6 linked regions of the Homo sapiens genome follow. The protein of the gene in region 1 purifies or fractionates together with the protein of each later gene. This does not show direct contact. Each region holds a gene or a part of one and is shown in the gene's direction. Other genes may lie near its edges.

Region 1 (3,500 bases):
ATATATATATATATATAATTTTTTTTCATTTGGTTGGTTTGGCATTCCTGGAATTGATTCTCCAGCAAGGCAGCTCTAAATATGAATTCCTCTGAACTGTTGTATCTGTTCTTAATTTAATAAACAAGTATCGTTTATGGTTTCCCGCAGTTGGTTTGATTATCAACTGTCTTGGAAAAATCCATTGTTTCAAAAATAGTAAAGCCACTAGTTGAGTAACCGCATGCATTTAGGGATGATGGATTTCTCAGGTCTCTCTGGAAGCAAGTGTGTGCATTGTACAATTAAAACACAGTTTCTGTTTCTCAGTCTTTTGGTGTAATAAGTGAGCCATGTGCTCTAGCATCTGTCTGAATTATCCGGAGCTGGTGGCAGCTGTCACGGGTGTGGTGCAGTGGGGCCAGGCGTGTGTTAGGAACTGGAAGCTCTGGGAAGCCAGGCTCTGCCTCCACGTGTGAGCCAGCTGTAGAGCGTCACTGCTCAGAGTTTGTCTTGACTCATCCCGAGAAGGGCACGTGGAGGTCTGTGTCCCATTCCTCACCAGCCACTGAGTTACTATGGATGGAGGAGATGAGATGTGTGCAACTGTTCTGCTACAGTAAAGCACGCAGTCAGTGCAGTCACCAGGGTTAGGATGTGTGAGTGTTTTACCAACCTGCCTGCTGGGTTTCAGACACCTGGCACTACCTCCAGCCTCTAACTGATTCTGGCTAGTACGCGTGAAAGCTGTCAGCTGAGTGATGAGTGGGCCGATTTTGGCCACAGGTCCCTGCACTTCCCACCTGGCCTGACTGCTAGATTCTGAGCCCCTGAGGCAGGACTGAGTGGGTCAGATTGATGGCTGATTGTCTCGGGAATGGCATTGGGTGAAGTCGAGATTTTCCTGACCCACAGCTCCTACTAGAAGTGCCTTTGTTTTGTGCATGTATTGTGAAGATTCTGCCTGTGAACTTTCTCTACCCTTTGAGTCCTAAGGTTCAGGTACCTGGAGAGGAGCGTGTCATCGTTTTGCAGGTGGGATGTGCGGTTGTTGGGGAAGACGTCTTTGTGCTGTGTTGGGTTGGAAGCTTTGAGAGCAGAAGCCCCTCCAGACCAAGAACTCCTGATTGTGTCTTTCCCTTGAGCTTTCACAGATTTCAGCTTCTAAATTAACTGCATTTTATTAAGTAATGGTTTTCTTCTTGATCACAGGCGTGCCTGTGCTTAATCAGCACTGAGGACTGGTGCTACTTCAGTTGATTTGATACACCTAGAGGCAGCCTCATCTCCAACTTGTCTTGGTTTCATTTGGGGAGCTGCCGTGGGGGACCCCTGGACTGGCAGCATTCCCACTCCTCACTTTGGCAACCCCGGCCTAACTCCTTGTATGTGTTGCTCCTTTTATCTGTCACATAGGGTGGCTTAATCTAATAGTGGAAACAAAGGGGTGCGGGACACTAACCTGGTAGGTCTCACCTTGCCCGTCATTCACCTCTCAGTCCTTTGACACTCAAGGACTCTGCAGTGGTACAACCGGGAGCAGGTACCCTTCACTTTTCTTACCCCCGAGTCCCTTTGCCTGGAGCACTGTCCATCTATCCAGCCGTGTACTCAGTAGGTATTTTCTGAGAAGCTACTATATTCCAGCTTTCTTGTTCCCAGTTTAGAGCTGGGTGGGATCAGGAGGAAGGGCATGGAAGGGGTTGCTGGAGAATGTGCAGTGGCATCAGAGCCCCATTCTGGCTCTGGGTCCAAGGCCCTCCTAGAGAGGCACAGTCTGGAAGATGTGAGAGCCCCACGGTAGGTTGGGGTGGATCATGGACCCCATCCTAGAAGAGTGGGTGGGTTTGCCCGTTCAGAGCCCAGGCCAGAAGAGCCCTCTCGGCAGAAGGGCCAGCCTGGAGTGTGGCACCCTGGGCATAGGGAGGGCCAAGTTTTTGGCAGCAGGATTATGTAGTTTGTGTAGGTCAGAGCTGGAGATGGGGGTTGGGGGGCAGTTCCTGACCATTAGGGGCTTGGTAGCCCTGGAGAGCCCTTGCTGTGGGTTGGGAGCAAAGTAGGTGGGCCAATAACAACACATATTTTACCAAGTGAATTCTAGGAGAGTGATTTCTGCAGCTGGCTTCCCTAGTGGACAGTTCAGAGCATGGGAGGAAGACGCGGTCAGGGGCGTGTTGAGAGGTGCATCCAGAGGCGAGAGGAGGGTGTGGGGAGGTATGAGCAGAAGATGTGACATGGGGTGGGGAGGGGTGCAGTGAGGACGCAGGAGGGTGGCGGGGGCAGGTGTCTGGCCGAGGCACTGCCAGCATCACGGGGAGGCTCTGGAGCCCACTCCCCACTGGGTTCTGTAGGAGGTGGCAGCTGATGCCAAGTCCCAGCCTTGCTAGTGCAGACGTTTTATTTTACCCTTCTTTTTTTTTTTTTTTTTTTTTAACAAGGATTTACAGGATTTGTAGATTAAATTGCCCCTGTTCTCCAAGAAGCAGCGGGAACAGCAGCGCTGCAGGGTGATGGGCTGCAGAGGCCTCTGCAGCAGGGTGGGGTCTGGGGAGACATTCGGGTGCCTCCTGTCCACGGCCTCGATAGGCCAGGGCGCCTGCAGCTTGGGCCCTCTTCCCCTTTCAGGTGGAGGGAGCTGTTCATCCTCTGGGGGCTGCTGGGCAAGAAACATTTCTTACGTGATAATGTGAAGCGTCAGAGGTCCCTGTTTGATAGGTAAGTTGCTGTATGTTTTGGAGCTGCAGGCAGTCTGTTTTTCTCACTAGCATGGTGTGGAGGTGGGGGACAGTATTCCCTCCCGTGAGGCCCACGTCCGCTTCATTATCCCTGTCTGCTGGGACTGCGCTGGATGCTGGCTGAGGCTGCCTTTGTTACTTCCATGCGCTGTAACTGGAAAGGCCTGCTGCTTGTTAGGCTCCTTAGAAATGTGATTTGAAGGCTGGGCACGGTGGTTCATGCTGTAATCCCAGCACTTTGTGAGGCTGAGGAGGGAGGATCGCTTAAGCCCAGGAGTTTGAGATCAGCCTGGGCAACACAGGGAGACCTCACCTCTACAAAAAAATAGAAAAATTAGCCAGATGTGGTGGCTCACGGGTGTGGTCCTAGCTACTTGGGAGGCTGAGGTGGGAGGATCGCTTAAGCCCAGGAGGTTGAGGCTGCAGTGAGTTGTGAGGGTGTCACTGCCCTCCCCTGGGTGACAGAGTGAGAACTTCTCTCTCTCAAAAAAAAAAAAAGAAGTCTGATTTGAAGGAGAGAAAGCTCCATTTGATGTGGGGGTTGGGAGTGGAGAGCACCTCTGCGATTAGACCTTTGTATCATCTTGATGATTTTAATCAGACATCTAATATTATGCTGTAGTTCATGTCAACTGATTTCCCAAACCTGAATTTCAGAGACTTCCCATGACACATCGGGCAGTGGGAGTGGGGATGGTGAGAGACTGTTAGTTATTCCAGGAAGAGAGGCCTTTTCTGATTGTCCTGCTCACCAGCACACTGAGGGGCTGGGCCGGTGACCTGATG
Region 2 (3,500 bases), on another chromosome or scaffold:
CCAGCCAGCTCTGCTGCTGGGCAAATGAGTCCGAGGCTCTGGCACTCACTGTCCTCCTCTGTAAATAAGGGGTTCTAGTGATTCACAGTCCTGGATAGACTTTAGAATCTCCTGGGAAGTTTGTTTTTTAATACCAGAGCCTGGGCCACCTCTGGAGATCCTAAGTCAGTTGGTCTAGGTATGTTTTGAAGACTCACCAGTTTGAAGACTACAAATCTGATGTGTAGTCAAGGTTTGAACCATTCCACAAGATGATAAAGGATTCCTTCCTATATTTGGTGCAAAGCACCAAGTGACACTTAGGAATATTTTAGACAAGAGAGCTTGGTTCATGATTCAACATTAGACAGATATTCTGGCACAAATATGAAGAACCCTCAATTTTCCCCTGTGGGTCAGCCACAAGACCAGGGCAATTTAACGCCTTGTCTCATCCACCTCCCAGCTGGCTGCTACCTCCTGCCCCTCTTTGAGCCCTGTGGGGATTTCTAGCGTTCAGAGCCCTGGTAGTTTTTGTGGCCTGCACTGTGCTTCAGAGCACCACTGATGCTCGGCTCCGTGGGGAAAGTAAGCCAAGTGTGACCACAAGAACGCATCATCCACAGTCACTGGGATCTCCTGGGACAGCCTGGGATCCAGGCCTTTGGCCTGGCCAGTAGGGGTGCAGTCACTCCTAGTATGCACATCCAGATCACTTGCTTTTTGCCCCGAATTCTGGCCTCTCCAGGTTTGTTAGAGGTGTCTCACGGAAGTTTACCCCATGGAGAGTTTGCTTATCTCAGATTAAAATATGGGGATTAATCTGGGACCCAGGAGCCCTTAAATGGAGTACCCACAGGGAATGGAGCTCTAGGCTAAGTGCTTTGGGATTACAGGTGCTTTGCTCTTGTTTGGAGGTCCAGACATATGCTTGAGAAGCAGCTTGGGATACTCAAGAGAGGCCTGAACTGGTACCCTGGAGGCCAGGATGAAAACCCAGGCCTCTCCATTTACTTTCTTGGGCCCCAGAGTCCACATTTGGGATTCACTGTCTACCAGGGCACCTCTCTGGGTGGCATCTAGGAGCCGGAGGCAGGCCAGAGTTTCACCCAGGCTGGAGTGCAGTGGCGCAGTCATGGCTGTCTGCAGCCTCAACTTCCCGGGCTCGGGAGATCCTCCTGCCTCAACTTCCTAAGTAGCTGGAACTATAGGCATGTGCCATCGCACCCAGCTAATTCAGCTAATTTCTTTTTTTGGAGACAATGTCTCACTATATTACCCAGGCTGGTCTCAAACTCCTGGGCTCAGGCAGTCCTCCTGCCTTAGCCTCCCACAGTGCTGGAATTACAGGCACAAGCCCCCGTGCCCGGCTTTCAGCTAGTTTTTGTAGCTCATAGTGATTATTCTTGGAGCCAATAATCGTGCATGCATCCACATCTTGAAATTACATGGTGTCACCTTGACCAGTCTGTTGACATATGCAGATTAGGTATTTATGAGATCCAGAGACTTATAGGGGAGGGGTGGATTTCAGGGAAAAGGGAACCTCTTAGAGAAAGGTAGGGAGTGTCTGCAGTTCTGCCTGTGAGGAGGGTACCAGGACATTGCAGGGCTTGTTTGTTGCATCTTCCTGGTTCTATAGAATTGCAGCTAGCTTCTGGTTTATTTTTTCATTTTTATTTTTTGAGATGGAGTTTTGCTCTTGTTGCCCAGGCTGGAGTGCAATTGGCGTGATCTCAGCTCACTGCAACCTCCGCCTCCTGGGTTCAAGCGATTCTCCTGCCTCAGCCTGCCCAGTAGCTGGGATTATAGGCATGCGCCACCACACCTGGCTAATTTTGTATTGTTAGTAGAGATGGGGTTTCTCCTTGTTGGTCAGGCTGGTCTCAAACTCCCGATCTCAGGTGATCCACCCGCCTCTGCCTCCCAGAGTGCTAGGATTACAGGCAGAAGCCACCGCGCCCGGCCGCTTCTGGTTTATTGAAGAGACAGAAAAATACCCCCTCACCCCCAGCAGGGATGTGTGACCTCTGGTGCAAGGGAGTTCATGAAGTGACTTCTTCAGGTTCAGAATTCTCATCTGAGTAAAGGGAGTGGGGGTGGAGTGGGTCATCTCTGAGGTTTTTTTTTTTTGGCTCTGATTTTGGTTTCTGTCTGCCCAGGAGTCAGGAATGGAGAGAAGGGTAATGGTTTTACCTCTTATTGTGGAAACCTGTTGAGATCACAGAGAATATACTGACGGCATAAAAGGGCAGAACCATAGCAGGGTGCGGTAAGTTGGGGAAGAGTTTTTGGAGAGGGTGAATTTTGCATTGGACCTGACAGAATTGTGTATGGGGAAGGGGAGCGGTTATTCTGGTCTGCTCACATCTCTCATACTCAACCTCATTTCTCCTAATTCTGAAATCTTGAGATCCTCTATCACTAAGAAGGAAAACTACTGTCCAACAGGGACACTTTATTGCTCACCCCATATGTGAAAGTTTGTCATAGCTAAGGCTAGGGTGCTTTTGGTCAGTATCAGCAGAATATATGCCCCCTTTCTTTTGTCAGCATTACTCCGCTTACAAAGCCCTTCCATGTAGATGACCTCATCTGAGCTTCCTAACAAAGGAGCTGGTATTAGACCCCATTTTACAGTGTGCCTGGGTAGGGAAGAGAGTGTAGTGGATTGAGCAGAGGCCTTGGCACCAGACACTGCTTCCTAGCCATGTGCTCTTGGGCAAGTTGCTTAACCCTGCTGAGCCTCAGTTTCCTCAGAAGGAGTCTGTATAAGCAAGGGAAGGGATTGGTCATAGAAGTGGTACTGTGTTTCATTTATCTGGTTATGGCAGACTCTCAAAAACAAATGGTTCTATACAACTAACATTGTCTGCAATTCCCCTGAATCCATTCACTTGTTCAGTAAATGTGTATTGAGCTTCTACAAGGTGTCAAGCACCATGATCTCTGTATCAGTGATTTAACCATTTTTGATGGTTACTACAGACCTCTTTAAGAATGTGATAGAAAACTGTAGCTCCCTCCCCAGAAAACTTTTCTAGCTTTTTATTTTGCTTTGCAGTGAGCCAAGATAGTTCCACTGCACTCGGGGGACAGAGTAAGACCCTGTCTCAAAAAAAAAAAAAAGAAAGGAACCATTTCAAATTAGGTGGGAGACATGGAGCTCTAAATACTACAGCATCCATTGCCTAGAAATACAGGTATTCTCAGCCGGGCGCGGTGGCTCACACCTGTAATCCCAGCACTTTGGGAAGCCAAGGCAGGTGGATCACCTGAGGTCAGGAGTTTGAGACCAGCCTGGCCAACCTGGTGAAACCCCGTCTCTACTAAAACTACAAAAAATTAGCCGGATGTGGTGGTGGGCACCTGTAATCCCAGCTACTAGGGAGGCTGAGGCAGGAGAATCGCTTGAACCTGGCAAGCGAAGGTTGTAGTGAGCCAGATTGCGCCATTGCACTCCAGCCTGGGCAACAAGAGAAAAACTCCATCTCAAAAATAAATAAATATATTAATAAATA
Region 3 (3,500 bases), on another chromosome or scaffold:
ATACAATACCCAACATATTGTAAATGTTGACACTTAAAGTTTCATTGTATTTACACATATATTCTTCTAAGTATGTGTCTTGAGGTTTACTTCTTAGTTTTACTTTAGGTAAAATCTTGCATTGTTTTACTTTTTGTTTACTTCAGTGATGTTGGTAAACATTTTTTAAAATTGTACATGTTCCTCTTAGATTAAGTTCTTAGAGGCTAGTAACTTTCTTTTTTCTTTTATACTTCTTTTAATGCTGGGTAATATATGTTGATGAATTGAATTATGTCTTAATGTAGGACATCTAACATTTTGTAGTTAAAATTTTTGTGATAAGATTATAAGCTTTTGGTAACTGTTTACTTTTTGACGGACTTCTAATAATTTCTTTTAATCCAACTTTCATAGATAATAGGTAGTATTTATATTACTAACCTTCTCCCCTTTCACTATTATAGTTTGGAAATTTTAGCATTCAGGTGCCAGGAATGCAGATGGGACAGCCAGTGCCAGAAACAGGCCCAGCTATACTCCTCGATGGATACTCTGGGCCAGCATATTCAGACACTTATTCCTCAGCTGGTGACTCCGTGTATACTTACTTCAGTGCTGTTGCTGGACAGGTGAGATGCTAAATTTATTGCATAAATATGTCTTTAAAATTATTGTTTAAGAGAAATGTCAGCTATTTAGAGTATCATTTTAAATGTATATGAAATTTATATTTTATATGTATCTAGACTAATTTTTTTCCTGAGATCAGAGATGAGCATAGTCATAATTATTTCATTTTAAAAGTCTGTTGATGTGATGCTTGATACATTGTTCATTTGACTAAAAGAGGAAACATTGTTTTCCATAGTGCGGAAATCTGATTCTTTCTTACCTAGTATGCTTGCGTTACTGAAATTCTTCTACAAGGGGCTCCTCTTACTAGTCACTAAACACCCCACCAAAACTTAGATATATCTTCTTATGAGTTATAATTTTTCTGTCACTTAAATCTTTTTATTTCCTTCACTCTGTTTGACATTTAGGAGCATCATACTCTCCCTGAGTGATAGATAACACAAAGCTAAGTAGGTTTAGCCTGCACATTCTTTTATAGCATGCAAAAATGACTATTGGAAATTTTAGGAAAGTAGGAAGCACTTTAAAAAATTATAAGGAACAATATTTCTAACTTGGGCCTCACTCCCATTTTTTAAAAAAAACTCAGTTAAAACCTAAGTATGTCAAACAATATGATTGGAAATCACTTCAGAGTCTCGTAAATTTATTCAGGTTGAGAAATTACATTTTTTTCACAGGTGAAGTTATATCATTTATAGTAATTTTGATTTGATATGGCTGGTAAATTTTCCAGGTTATCAAAATAATCATGTCAGGATTTATTAATTAAAAATTAAAGGAAATAGTATGTTACGATGTGGTATGGTTTTAGGATGTTATTTGTTTCCAGTAAATTTGAGTGATTATTTAAAGGACTGACTTTATTATGACCAATAGGGACGTGTGAAACTGCCAGTTCAAGTACATGAATTCTGTGGGTGAATTGTTACTGATGATATGTGAATACTGTGGTCAACGGAAGCTTTTCTTTTACTCCTACATAACTGTAACACCATACCACAGTTTATTCTTTTCCAAGTGATTTTATATATATTTTTCATGTGAAATTTCAAGGAAAATTAAGCAAATAGGATATGTATTATACCCCTTTGTATCAGTTATTAGTTGTATTTGACAGAAGTATTGAGTAAATATTCAAGATCGGAAGGAATACAATATTATAAGATGCCAATGTCTTCCAAATTAATTGATAAATAATATAATATTATATGAGTCAAATTCCTAAAGGTTTCTTTTTCTTTTTTCTTTTTGGCACTTGCTGCAATGATTCTAAAGTCTGTCTTGTATACTATGTTGTTGAGAATAAATATTAAATTATAATATATCATATAAATGTATTATTAATAATTGTGATAGTGTGGTCCTAATGTAAAAACAAACATAATACTGAAGAGCCCAGAAGCTTACCTGTGAATTCAGTATATGGTAGAGGTAGCATTTCATATCAGTGGGGAAAGAATGATTCCTGAATTAACTATCCTGAAATAATTAACAGTTTATCTAAAAGTAAATGTAAATCTTCAGCCTGTACCATATAGTAGCATGAATTCCAGATATATTAAAGGATTGAAAAGAGGGTGTATTGATGTTTATCTCCTGTTGTTGAAATAAATGAGCTTGTCTTTTTTTTTTTGCTGCTGCTTCAGCATGTATTGCAGCACCTGCTATATTTGTGTTTTTGTCTACAAAACTTCTTAGAAGAGTGATGAACTAAGATAGTTGCATGTGTTAATGAAACATTTGGGAACATCTTTTTAAGATGTGTGTTTTTTTTTCTTGATATGTTTCATTCACTTGTTTAACAATTTGGGGGGAAAGTTGAAAGCTCTTCTGTGGTTATGGAATACAGTGGATTGGTGCATGGAGACTGGGGGCCAGAGAGGATTTGGAAAAAGAGATCTACATGAAAATCATCTTGAAGGAGTTGGGGCAATGTATCAAAGAGGAGATTTGTAAATTGTGGATGGTTCTGGGACAGGCTCGATGATAAAACAGATTAGGAAAAGGCAAAGAAACTGGCAGAATGGATGTTCTAATACCATACTAATGGGCAGAAACAGAAATTCACTCTAGAGTCTTAGCTGTAGTCCATATCTCTTTTCTTTTATAATGGTCAAGAAAGATTTATTGATGTAGGTAGAATTTTATAGAACTTTAATAACATTTTATTCATTCCCTTGAGTGTTCACTAGGTCTAATGTGCTTTTCTAGGATTAGACAATATACACAGAATTAATATACGTGGCAGACATTCTGTTTTGGCTACCCCAATTTCATTTAAAACCCCCTTTTACCTTTTATTATGTAATAGAGGCTGGGGAACTATAATAGTCACCATCCCAGATACCTTTGTAGCTATTAAAGGCAGCCATGTGCCGTAGGACTGACCATTGACATGTAGGTGCAGTATCTTTGGAAAATCTTTCTACCCCAAATGAAAAAAGCCTTACTGGGAGCAAGCCTTGGCTGTGGCTGTTTTTGCCCCTTCATTCTTCCTGCCTGGAAAGGGGACTTGAGGTATGGAGGTGCAGTAGCCATCTCGTGACCCTGAGACAACAGGCTTGAGATAAAGACCTATAGATAGGGAATGTGGAAAAATGTAGAGACTGATGACATGTCTAAGTTGCCATACAGCCCTGTTCTGCCTAGCCTCAGACCTATTGTATGAAACAATAAACCCCTATTGGTTTAAGCATCTTCAATAATATTTTCTCCTGTTTGCAGCTAAATGGTACCTTAACTGTTCTACTCATTATACCATTGCCATTTTAAAGGATTATACTGGGAATAAGTAGTATTATACTGAGAATAATTCTATTATCTCTGTTTGACTATATAATACATTCATCATATAAAATTACAACTTAAAGTATATGAAC
Region 4 (3,500 bases), on another chromosome or scaffold:
AGTTGTGACAACTGTTTCCAAGGAAAAGTTCAGTGTGCAAAGAGGAAGTATTAGTAGAGATCTTCCTTGATTGGGGAGTTAGGGGAAGTTCCTTATGGAAGTGACATTTAAGCTGGGAGTTAATAGAGGAGCAGGTTCATTTGCTGAAGTGTCTTCTAACCAGAAGGGATGCTTTGAAGGCCCTAGGGTGGGAAGGAGCTTGGCTCTTTGAAGGAGGGTGGGGTGCGGGCAAGGAGGGACTGCAGGAAATCTGTCGGGTGAGGCCAGATCATTCAGGGCCTTGTGGGTGGGTTAAGACTCCCATCTTTATCCTAAAGGTAGGGAGGCTGCAGAAAGATTTTAATCTTGAGAATTAGCTAATTGGAAATATATTTGCAAAAGATCATGTTTATCTTTTCTGCCAAACTGCATTTCCTGAAGGCAGGGGCCATGTCTGCCTTTTTCATAATGTATCCTTATTATCTAGCATTGTGTCTGCCTTTCAAGAACTGTTTATTGAAGGAATAAATGAGTGAATGAATGAATGGATAAATTAATGAATAAATACATAATTACTGTTGGCATTTTGGCATACATTCCATACACTGTATACACACACACAAACACACACACACACACAGTATGGCATGCTTTATATCCCATTGTATAACCCATCATTTTCATTTAAGTGTATATAATACTTTTTTCATGACCTTAAAATTAGCATTTTTATAACATTGAAATTATTTGTATAGAAGAAGGTTTAATGACTATATGATTTTCCACTGTATAGATATATCATCATTTAGTTAAACGGTTACTAATTGTGGGGCAAAAACATTGTTTCCAATTATATTTTATAATGTTAAGTGACTATATACAATAGCATATTTTATAACCATTTATATTTAATGATTAGAAATATGTAACTCGTATCCTTGTCTCTGAAAGTTTGACTTTATCCTTAATTATTTCCCAGTGTAGAAATAGAAAGGGAGGGCAGGCCACATGATCTTCAAGAAACACTGTCTTCCCATCAAATGGGAGAACGTATTTCTATCTCATAAGGGACTTGTATCTAGGATATATAAGTGACTCTTGTAGTCAATGATAAAAAGTCAAATAACCCAACTGAACAATGAGCAAAAGACCTGAAAGATATTTCTCTACAGAAGATTCACAGATAGCAGAGAAGGCATTGGAAAGATGCTCAATGTCATTAGCCGTCAGGGTCATGCAAATGAAACACCCAGTAGGTGGGCTGTAGTCAAAAAGCCAGATAATAGCAAGTGTTGATGAGGATGTGGAGAAATTGGAAACCTTATGCACGGCTGCAGGGAATGTAAAATGGTACAGCCACTTTGAGAAGCAGTTTGGTGGCTCCTCGAAAGGTTAGACCTGGAGTCACCATATGACCCAGCAGTTGTATTCCTAGGTATATACCCAGGAGAAATGAAAACATATGTCCATACAGAAACTTGTATGTGAATGTTCAGGACAGCTTTATTCATAGTAGCCAAATGTGAATGCAATGCAAATGTCCATCATGGTGAATCGAGAAACAAATATGATATGTCCATGCAGTGGAGTATTATTTGGCAATAAAAATGAATTTAATAGTGGCCGGGCGCGGTGGCTCATACCTGTAATCCCAGCATTTTGGGAGGCCAAGATGGGCGGATTGGCTGAGGTCAGGACTTCGAGACCAGCCTGGACAACGTGGTGAAACCCTGTCTCTACTAAAAATACAAAAATTAGCTGGGCATAGTGGTGGGCGGCTGTAATCCCAGCTACTTGGGAAGCTGGGGCAGGAGAATCGCTTGAACCCGGGAAGCGGAGGTTGCAGTAAGCTGAGATCGTGCCACTGCACTCCAGCCTGGGTGACAAGAGCGAAACTCCATCTCAAAACAAAACAAAAGAAAAAAAAGAATTTAATATTGATTTATGCTACAACATGATGAACTTTGAAAACACATTGAGAAGTCAGTCAAAAAAACTACCATATTGTACAATTTGTTTTATATGAAATGTCCACAATAGGCAAATCTATAGAGACAGAAAAGTAGATCAGTGGGTGCCAGGAATGGAGGGTGTTGAGAAGAAATGGGGAGTGATTGCTAATGAGTACAGGGTTTCTTTTTGGGGTGATGAAAATAATCTAAAATTGACTGTGGTGATTTCAGAGCTCTCAGTATGCTAAAAACCATGGACTTATCCCCTTAGAAAAAGTAAACAAAGAGTTATGAAAAAGAAAAAAAAAGACGTTTTAATTTCTATCACTGAGTGTGCACATGTTTTTAAAAAGTTTTTATTACTATAAACCAACCAACAAAATGTTTGACCACTTAATATTTATCCTTTTCTGATAAATAACAATAGCTAATATTGCTGGGTGCTTATGTGCCTGGCACTCTCTAAGAGTTTATATAGACATAGAAACCTATCTTATGTTTATGTATAAATGTTCATATATACATATCTTATTTAATACCCTCATCAGACAGATGAGGCAGATGCCATTACCACTCTCATTTTTCTGATGAGGAAACTGAGGCAGAGAGGTTAAGTAACTGGCTCCAGATCATGGAGCTGATAGAGGCAGAGCCAAGATGCAAACCCAGGCTTCTTGTTGCAGAAACCCTGCTCCTAACCCAACGTTGTGCTACTTGTGAATTGGCAGAGTCCTGTGCTCATGGAAGACGCTAGGGAACACACTGTGTTATGGAGTGCTCTCCACGGGTCAGCACTGTGTTCAGCCAGGACTATCCCACGTCCCTGTCTGTAGCTGATTGAACAATGATAGCTGTCACTTTGTTGCTTTCTTGGCATTTTTGCTAGAGGTGACACATGCTCCCTCTGAAGCTTGGGTCACCTCCTCGCAGAGGGTTGCTGTCCAGGCCTAACAGGGAAAGCAGGGACTTGAATCAAAGCTTCTAATGTTGGGCCACCTAGAACCAGGCCCAAGAGAGGGGACTTGTTTACAGGGAAAGTTAAGTCTTGTTATAAAGTGCAGAAGATGAAACTGGATGATACTTACACAGATGATTCCTTGTCACAAAATACCTGAAGACCTGGTACAATGGAGATGTCCCCTCTCTCCTCTCTAGGACCCTCTTCAAATTGTGGTGGCTTCTTATTCTATGCCAGTGGGACATTCTCCAGCCCATCCTACCCTGCATACTACCCCAACAATGCTAAGTGTGTTTGGGAAATAGAAGTGAATTCTGGTTATCGCATAAACCTGGGCTTCAGTAATCTGAAGTAAGTAATGCCTGGTCATCTGGTGAGGGGTGAGTTCCTCTGCAGCACACCCACTGGTTTAGACTGTGTCCTGGGCTGGGATGCTTTTCACTCTCATGTGCCATGGACAAGCTTTTGGTGGCTTTGATTCCTACCATAAAGCATCAGGGAACACTGATGTCCTTTGACTTAATTGAGGAAGAGCTAGAAGAAAAACCTGTATTCAATGGCATCCCTCGTAAAGTGCAAACTATTTATAAAATGGAGGGGCAATAGGAATT
Region 5 (3,976 bases), on another chromosome or scaffold:
ATTCCAGACATTGTATAGAAGAACATTGTAAAACTCCCCGCTCTGTTCTGTTTCTCTCTGACCACCGGTGCATGCATCCCCTGTCACGTACCGCCTGCTCGCTCAAATCAATCACGACCCTTTCATGTGAAATCTTTAGTGTTGTGAACCCTTAAAAAGGACAGAAATTGTGCATTCAGGGAGCTCGGATTTCAAGGCAGTAGATTGCTGACGCTCCCAGCTGAATAAAGCCCTTCCTTCTACAACTCAGTGTCTGAGAAGTTTTGTCTGCCGCTAGCCCTGCTACACACTGTTACAATGTCAATGCTTTTTTTAAAAATCCCTTTTTTTCTTATTGAGGCGGAGGAAGGAGCTCTGGGGTAGAGGGTCTTACTTTGTCGCCCACGCTGGCCTGGACCTCCGGGCTCAGCGGTCTTGCGGCTCCTGCTTCCTGAGTAGCCGGGACCCCAGACTCGCCACCTCGCCCACATCCCTGCTGTGTTTAAGCAGGAGGTGGTGACCTCACTCCTCCCTGGCCTGAGGCCTCCGCTCCGCACCCCAGGCGGTGGCCCTGAGGAAGTCTCTGGAGCTGAGCACAGGGTGGATTCTCCCACCCCAGTGAATGGAAAATAGAAAGGGAGAGGATTTGCTATTCTGTTCTGTGGGCCGTCAGCAGGAAATTGGAGGTTTCGCTGAGGCAGAGCTTTGTATTTCGCATTCTAGTTTGCATTCCTTCCCTTGACAACTTCCAGATTTTGGACATAAATTGCTAAAATTAATTTCAATAGCAAGGAACTTTCCTGGGTCCAATGACCGCCTCACGTTGACTTCTCAGGGAGGTACTATTTCAATGACTGCTGAGCTGCTCCAGCCTCACTGGCGGCTTTCGCCTCCAAAACCTGGAAAAAAGGCGCAGAGAGCGAGATGGAGGAAAGCTCAGGACCCACCCGCTTCTCGCCCCCGCCGACCCCTCATAGCCCAGGACTCTTCTCCCAGCCAGGCCCCTTGTTTCTCAACCCCGCCCCGGCCTTGTTCAGGCCCCGCCCACCTCTTCGCGTCTCATCCCGGCCTAGTCCAGGCCCCGCCTACCTTCTCGGGGGTCCCGCCCAGGCCTGGCCTCTGTCCTGCGCTGATTGGCATAGACCCGGAAGCGGATGGCAGGGACTGAAGGTCACACCACAGCGCGTGAGTTTCGCTCTGTTTTATGTGTGCTTCCCAGTCCTGTGGTGCTGCTATACCGGGGACGTTGAGTCCCCACAGACCTGGAAATTGCGGCCCCTCTTTCTCAACCCAGAGCAAATTGAGACGTCCGGGTGAGAGTCCGTGAGTCCCTTCGAGTTTAAAGTGGCCCTGAGGCAGGTCCCGTCCTCGGTCTTTCTGCAGTGGGGTCGTGCAGACACCTCCTATCGCGGAATTTTCCTTCTCAAAACCCTTCCTGACCTGTCCTCCCGCCTCGCGCTGTTTCAAGTCCTCACCCGCGAGCTGGATTCCAGCCCTAGGCGCCTCCCACCGTCGCTCTCGGCGGCTTCAGGAGCGCCGCGCCTCAACCCCGGTTCCCGGGAGGCCGCGTCCTCTGCCTGGTCCTAAGATCCTGCAGACGCCACCCCTGTCCGAAGGCTCCGTCGCTCCCCACCTCCCTCCTTGTGCGGTGTTGCTACCTAGTTCCAACTCCTGGAAAACGAATATATGCAATCAAGAAAGCACTCCACAGAGGGGAGTGGGCCCGAGCCAGCGTCTCCGGGGACCCGTTTAGAAAGTTTTAGGGGGTTAAAGTATTTATTTTGAGGTCCCTATGGGCTACCCCTTATCTGGATGAAGGATTTTTGGCCCTTGGCCAACGAAATGCTGAGGTGAATTGGCCCGAGGCCGGAGCAGATGGGTGCCCTATGCAGATGAAGGTGTGGCCGGTGCTTGGCCATGGCCACTCCTGGGCTCTTTCCCTTTCTGAGACGTGGTGGAAGGAGGAGGGCGGTAGGGACAGCGGCCTTTGATCCTTTGTTACTCCGGATGGGGAGATGGGGTTTTTCCTTTTTGTCTAGTTTTAGAAAGTTTGCCTTAATTGGCCTTAGATTCGCTGCCCCCAGACCCAGGACCCAGGTATTTCTTTTTTATTCTTTTTTATTGGAGATGGGGTCTCACTCTGTTGCCCAGGCGGGAGAGCGGTGACAGGATCACAGCTCACTGCATCATCAACATCCTATGCTCAAGCGATCCTGTCACCTCAGCCTGCAGAGTAGCTGGGACCACAGCCGCGCGCCACCACACCGCGCTAATTTTTGTGTACTTGGTAGAGACGGGCTTTTGCCTTGTTGCTCAGGCTGGTCTCCAACTCCAGGGCTCAAGCGATCCAGCTGTATCGCCCTCCCAAAATGCTGGAATTACAGGCATGAGCCACCATGCCCGCCTTGTTTCTTAATTAAAAAATAAATAAATAAAAATAAAGGCCGTGTGCAATGGCTCATGCCTGTAATCCCAGCACTTTGGGAGGCCAAGGCGGGCAGATCACCTGAGGTCAGGAGTTCGAGACCAGCCTAGTCAACATGGCGAAATCTCGTGTCGAATAAAATACAGAAATTAGCCAGGTGTGATGTCGGGCGCCTGTAATCCCAGCTACTCAGGAGGCTGAGGCAGCAGAATCCCTTGGACAGGGAGGGGGAGGTTGCAGTGAGCTGAGATCATGCCACTGCACTCCAGCCTGGGGTGACAGAGCGAGACTCCGTCTGAAAAAAGTAAGATAACTACTTTTCAAATAAGCTTTGGTAGAATCTTATGAGCTCACATCATTGTTTTCCAACTATGATATGAGTTCAAAATTTTCTTCTTTGACCCTACATTTTATTAGATATATACATTTTTAGATGTATATATTTTTAACCATTTTAAAAGTTTCTCTATGAAATTTGTTGTGTTCAGTTTACATAGAAGACTGCATGCTTTCTAGTCTGTATCATATATTGGAAGCATTTACTAGTACCTGATAAATGATTTTAGGTTGTTTCTTTTTTTCTTTCTTACTTTTTTTTGAGACAAAGTCTCCCTTCTACCCCCAGGCTGGAGTGTGATGGCACGATCTCGGCTCACTGCAACCTCCGTCTTTTGGGTTCAAGCTCTTCTCCTGCCTCAGCCCCCAAGTAGCTGGGATTACAGGCGCCTGCCACCACGCCTGGCTAATTTTTGTATTTCTAATGGAGACGGGGTTTCACCATGTTGGCCAGGCTGGTCTTGAACTCCTGACCTCAGGTGATCCGCCCACCTCAGCCTCAGAAAGTGCTGGGATTACAGGTGTGAGCCACCGTGCCTGGCCAATTTTAGGTTGTTTCAATGTGTACTTTATAAAGATATCAAGGACCTATTTTGTTTGTTTGTTTTGAGATGGAGTTTTGCTCTTATTGCCCAGGCTGGAGTGCAATGGCGCGATCTTGGCTCACCACAACCTCCGCCTCCTGGGTTCAAGTGATCTCCTGCCTCAGCCTCCCCAGTAGCCGGGATTACAGGCATGTGCCACTGCGCCAAGCTAATTTTGTATTTCTAGTGGAGATGGGGTTTCTCCATGTTTGTCAGGCTGGTCTCAAACTCCCAACCTCAGGTGATCCACCCACCTCGGCCTCCCAAAGTGCTGGGATTTAAGGTGTGAGCCACCACGCCCGGCCCCAGGACCTTTCTTCTTTACGCTAACATCAAAATTTGGTTCAAGTAGCCTATTCTATTTTCTTTCCTTATGTCATCTGATAAAATGGTGAGCTGTGAGCTTCTAAGTAAATGTCTCCCTCAAGTTCCTCTGGTTCATAATATTCCTTGCAGATGTTGAACGATGGGCTGGATTGTTTTGGAACCTTGTTCCAGCAGAGCCCATGTGTTCATGAAGAAAACATTTGCTTACAGCTTATGACTACCATTGCCTCTCTTTCAGTGTTTTTTGTTGTTGTTGTTGTTTTGGTTTTTGTTTTGTTTTGTTTTGTTTGAGAAGGAGTCTCACTCTGTCACCCAGGCTGGAGTG
Region 6 (4,162 bases), on another chromosome or scaffold:
CGCGTGGGTCAGGCTGGTCTCAAACTCCCGACCTCAGGTGATCCACCCGCCTCAGCCTCCCAAAGTGCTGGGATTACAAGCATGAGCCACCGCGCCCGGCCATTCTCAGCCCTGTCTCTTCAGCTTGACTTGCTGCCTGTGATAAGCCCACTCCTTTTGAGAGGAGTGGTTCATTTAGTTGAGCTTGCTCTGCCCTTTTGAAGTCTCAGGGCCTTGAATCACCTTGCTCCTTCAGTCTAGAATGAATCTAGTCTTTCTCTCCTAACTCCACCCCTTCAGGGATCATCCAGTTATTAGAACCCTCCAAACAATTTTTCTGGAGTTCTTTGGCCCTTTTTGCAATGCCCCCAATAATCCATGCAAATACTCATTCATAAGCTCAACAAATATCTATTGAGTGCCTGCCATGGGCCAAGTCCTGTTCCAGGACCTAAACACACAACCTAGAACAAATGAAATAAAAATACTTACTCTTCTGAAATTAGTATTCTACTGGAGAAGGCGGACAAGTAGTAAAAAAAAAAATTAACAAACCTATAGGGCATGTTAGAAGAGGAAACAAGAGTAAGGTGGGATTCCTATTTAAGTGGAATGGTGGGAGAGCTTCATTGAGAAGACCTGAAGGGATGAGAGAGCGGGCCGTATGGCCACTTAGGGAAGGAGCAGGTCAGCCGGAAGTACCTGGCAGGTTACAAGAAGAGGAAGGGGTCTATCAAGATTGGAGCAGGAAAGTGGGGAAGAGGTGCGGGAGGTTACAGGGGCTAGATTCCATCAGGCCTTGTAGGCCACTATAAAGACTTGGGTTTTAACTCTGAGTGAAATGGGAAACCATTGCAGGGTTTTAAGCAAAGGAGGGTCATAATTTGACGTTTTTAAAACGTCCGTCTGGCTGTGGAGAATAGCCAAGAGAAGTAAGGTATAATCAAGAAGCTATTGCAATAATCCAGGTGAGCCATGAGGGTGGACTGGACCATGGGGGCAGGTGTGGAAGTCATAAGATTAATATGTGTTTAACTCAAGTTGTGGCATTAATTATGGCTTGCATTAAATGCATCGGTAATATGCTTCTGCGGTGGATTTTTCCACCTTAGATTTCAGGGAATGGAAGTGATGGGAGCGGGTAGGGAAGGTCTGAGGTTACTAAACAGATGGAGCCTCCTGGATCTGCAAACCTCATACGATTCTAGGCCTCTGAGCCTCTGGCGCAGCAATAATTCTGCAGCCGAGCCCACTAGCCGCTTCCCAGTGACCATGCGCAACAGGCAGGTGGGAGCCTATGGAAAGCGCGGACTTTCGGAAAGCTGCACGAGCGCGTTCGGGGAGTCCGGTTCAGCGCCTCTGCGCAGGCGCAGTGGTTCCCGCAGGCTTGCGCGCGCACTCGCTGCGGGACAAGCTTCTGGAAGCTCTTTGCGGTGGCGTTGGTGCTGTTTGCGGATGCTGATGCAGGTACTGGTCGTCCCGGGCCCCGAGTTTCGGGGCCGTGGCCGGGTCGCCGGCTCCGAGGGCGCACTTGGGGCGGGATGGGGGCCGGGAGCAGCCTACCAACGGGCTGTGCGCTGCGCTGCTGCTGCTTCTGTGGGAGGTGCGCACTCCGCTGCGGGATGGGGCTGTTGGCTTCCCTCCATCCCTCCCTGCGCCACTTGGGCACTGTTGACATTTTGGGCGGGATAATGCCTTGTTTTGTTTGTGGTGTGGCGGTGAGGGGGAGGCTCTCCCGTTGTGGCAGGATGTTTAACAGCGTCACTGGTTCTGCCCGTTAGATAACAGTACCACCTCTCGTCCTAGTCGAGCTAACCAAAAATGTGTCCAGACATTGCCAGAGGACCGCTGGGGGGTGAAATCTCTCCTTTTTTCTTCCCTCTGGTTGAGATCCTCTGGCTGCGTCACATTTTCACCGGGCCTCCTATGTAAACTCCCTGTAGACGGAGCCGAGTGTCTTAGTCATCGCGGAGCCCCAGGTGCTCAGCACGGCGCCAGGTACGTGGTGGGCGCCTAATATTTGGCAGAGGAATAAATGACGTCATGCTGCTGTGTGCCGGGCGCTGTACTCGGAAGTGGGTTGTTATTGGTATGGTAGTTGCAATGCGAGGCTGTCACATCCTTCACTTGTCGCATTGTAGTCCCGCTCCGGCTGTATTGTCATTTCCTGGACCCTCTGTGAGCGTGAGGACCCTTTCAGGCCTGTCCACGCCTGGCCCCGCAGCTCATGGCCCCTGGTCTCGTTCCAGCTCATTGTAGTTGCTCCGTCACTTATAGAATGAATGAATGAATGCAACACAGGGCAGTCTGTGTGCAAAGGAGTGCTTTGGGATCAAGCAGAGCATCACACCAGAAGTGACAGTTGAAAGGAGTCAGGCTTTAAAGACGAATAAAAGTTTGGTAGGAGAAAGAAAGCAACATTCCGAGGAGAGGGAATAGCCTTGGTGCAAAGGCTAGGAGAGTATGTAGAGAGAGAGGAGATACTAATTTATGGCTGTAGTGTCAATCGGGTAGCTAGAGCTCAAGAGGTGAGGTCATCAGACAGTGTCTCTAGATCACAATGCCATGGTCCCTGCATGTGAACTTTATCGAGAGACAGTTCGGTGGCTGGTGAGGGACTGTAAGCCGGGGAGTGATAAGATCATATTTTGCATGTTAGAAGGAATTTTTTGGCCACAGTGTGAGACTGGAGTGAAGAACCCTGTACTTAGGCAGTTTCAGAAGGATAGAATGGAGAGGTTCTTAGGAAATAAAATCGCCAGAACTTGGCGATTGATGGGAGAAGTAAGGAGGAAGAGAAATTTGAAAGTCAAATATTAAATTGGGCTTCTGAGTTGAGCAACTAGTGAGAAATGTGTGCCCTTTCATTAAGAAAGGGTAGGAGTTGTTAAATAGCTTTGTGACTGGGTCCCCTTGTGAACCTTTTCTGATAACATTTTGTTTAGGAGGAGTATTCAATCTAAAGCAACTGTTTCCTTAACCCTTAAGTAGCTCCCTGGTTTTTGACTATAAAGAAAATTATGGCTGGGCACAGTGGCTCACGCCTGTAATCCTGACACTTTGGGAGGCTGAGGTGGGTGGATCGCCTGAAGTCAGGAGTTCAAGACTAGCCTGGCCAACATGGCGAAACCCCGTCTCTACTAAAAATACAAAAATTAGCCAGGCATGGTGGTGGGCGCCTATAATCCCAGCTACTCAAGAGGCTGAGGTAGGAGAATCACTTGAACCCAGCCGGGGCAGAGGTTGCAGTGAGCCGAGATCGCACCACTTCACTCCAGCCTGGGCACCAAGAGCGAAACTCCGTCTCAAAAAAAAAAAGAAAGAAAGTTATCCTTTTAATTGAGCAGGGCTTTTCTAGGCCTTTGCTGGTATGTGTGTGGATATATTTCTCTGAACCAAACCAAGAACGATGTTTTTAGGACTAACAACAGTTTTTTTACTTATTTAATGCCTTAATATTTCTTCTTGACAGTTTCTGCAGGACTGTAAACTGGATTCCTGGAACCTTTGATATTCCTGGCTGTGTATAGTGCCTGTTGGTGGACTGTACTGATACTCAACTAGAGTGTGAAGGGACTGGATTCCTGCCCCTGAGACACAATGCAAGCTGTAGTGCCCTTGAACAAGATGACAGCCATCTCACCAGAACCTCAAACTCTGGCCTCGACTGAACAAAATGAGGTCCCAAGAGTGGTTACTTCTGGGGAACAAGAAGCTATTTTAAGAGGAAATGCTGCTGATGCAGAGTCTTTCAGACAGAGGTTTAGGTGGTTTTGTTACTCAGAAGTAGCTGGACCCAGGAAAGCTCTGAGTCAACTCTGGGAGCTCTGCAATCAGTGGCTGAGACCAGACATTCACACGAAAGAACAGATTTTAGAGCTTCTGGTGTTTGAGCAGTTCCTGACCATTTTGCCTGGGGAGATCAGGATTTGGGTAAAGTCACAACATCCTGAGAGTAGTGAGGAAGTGGTGACCCTAATAGAAGATTTGACCCAGATGCTTGAAGAAAAAGGTGAGATTTATAGATGGAGGGAGGAAGCGGGAGACATTGCCTCAAAGTCCGAAAGTAAATTCCTCAAAAGAAGGCAATTTACTGCTAAAGAGGAGTCTGAGGTTAGAAGTTGGGACTGGGTTTGAATCAGCCCTGCCATTTACTGTGTGATTTTGGGCAAGCTGTGTAAAC

Evidence for each region.
Region 2: the proteins of GOLGA8A (region 1) and TRIM26 purify together in Homo sapiens (affinity purification with mass spectrometry; one large-scale study listed by BioGRID and IntAct). This does not show direct contact.
Region 3: the proteins of GOLGA8A (region 1) and GCA purify together in Homo sapiens (affinity purification with mass spectrometry; one large-scale study listed by BioGRID and IntAct). This does not show direct contact.
Region 4: the proteins of GOLGA8A (region 1) and DMBT1 purify together in Homo sapiens (affinity purification with mass spectrometry; one large-scale study listed by BioGRID and IntAct). This does not show direct contact.
Region 5: the proteins of GOLGA8A (region 1) and ZNF320 purify together in Homo sapiens (affinity purification with mass spectrometry; one large-scale study listed by BioGRID and IntAct). This does not show direct contact.
Region 6: the proteins of GOLGA8A (region 1) and ZNF483 purify together in Homo sapiens (affinity purification with mass spectrometry; one large-scale study listed by BioGRID and IntAct). This does not show direct contact.

The regions. Positions count from the first base shown.
Region 1 is NC_000015.10:34,427,809-34,431,308, reverse strand, and holds part of GOLGA8A (golgin subfamily A member 8A), read left to right. Parts: intron 1-3,500. UniProt on the Homo sapiens protein: May be involved in maintaining Golgi structure.
Region 2 is NC_000006.12:30,203,407-30,206,906, reverse strand, and holds part of TRIM26 (tripartite motif-containing protein 26), read left to right. Parts: intron 1-2,141; 5' UTR 2,142-2,251; intron 2,252-3,500.
Region 3 is NC_000002.12:162,347,132-162,350,631, forward strand, and holds part of GCA (grancalcin), read left to right. Parts: intron 1-446; coding exon 447-611; intron 612-3,500. UniProt on the Homo sapiens protein: Calcium-binding protein that may play a role in the adhesion of neutrophils to fibronectin. May play a role in the formation of focal adhesions.
Region 4 is NC_000010.11:122,626,754-122,630,253, forward strand, and holds part of DMBT1 (scavenger receptor cysteine-rich domain-containing protein DMBT1 isoform e precursor), read left to right. Parts: intron 1-3,086; coding exon 3,087-3,240; intron 3,241-3,500.
Region 5 is NC_000019.10:52,894,836-52,898,811, reverse strand, and holds the start of ZNF320 (zinc finger protein 320), read left to right. Parts: upstream 1-1,176; 5' UTR 1,177-1,292; exon of another isoform or gene 1,293-1,334; intron 1,335-3,376; exon of another isoform or gene 3,377-3,976.
Region 6 is NC_000009.12:111,523,817-111,527,978, forward strand, and holds the start of ZNF483 (zinc finger protein 483), read left to right. Parts: upstream 1-1,362; 5' UTR 1,363-1,446; intron 1,447-1,760; exon of another isoform or gene 1,761-1,977; intron 1,978-2,001; exon of another isoform or gene 2,002-3,347; intron 3,348-3,451; 5' UTR 3,452-3,579; coding exon 3,580-3,991; intron 3,992-4,162. UniProt on the Homo sapiens protein: May be involved in transcriptional regulation.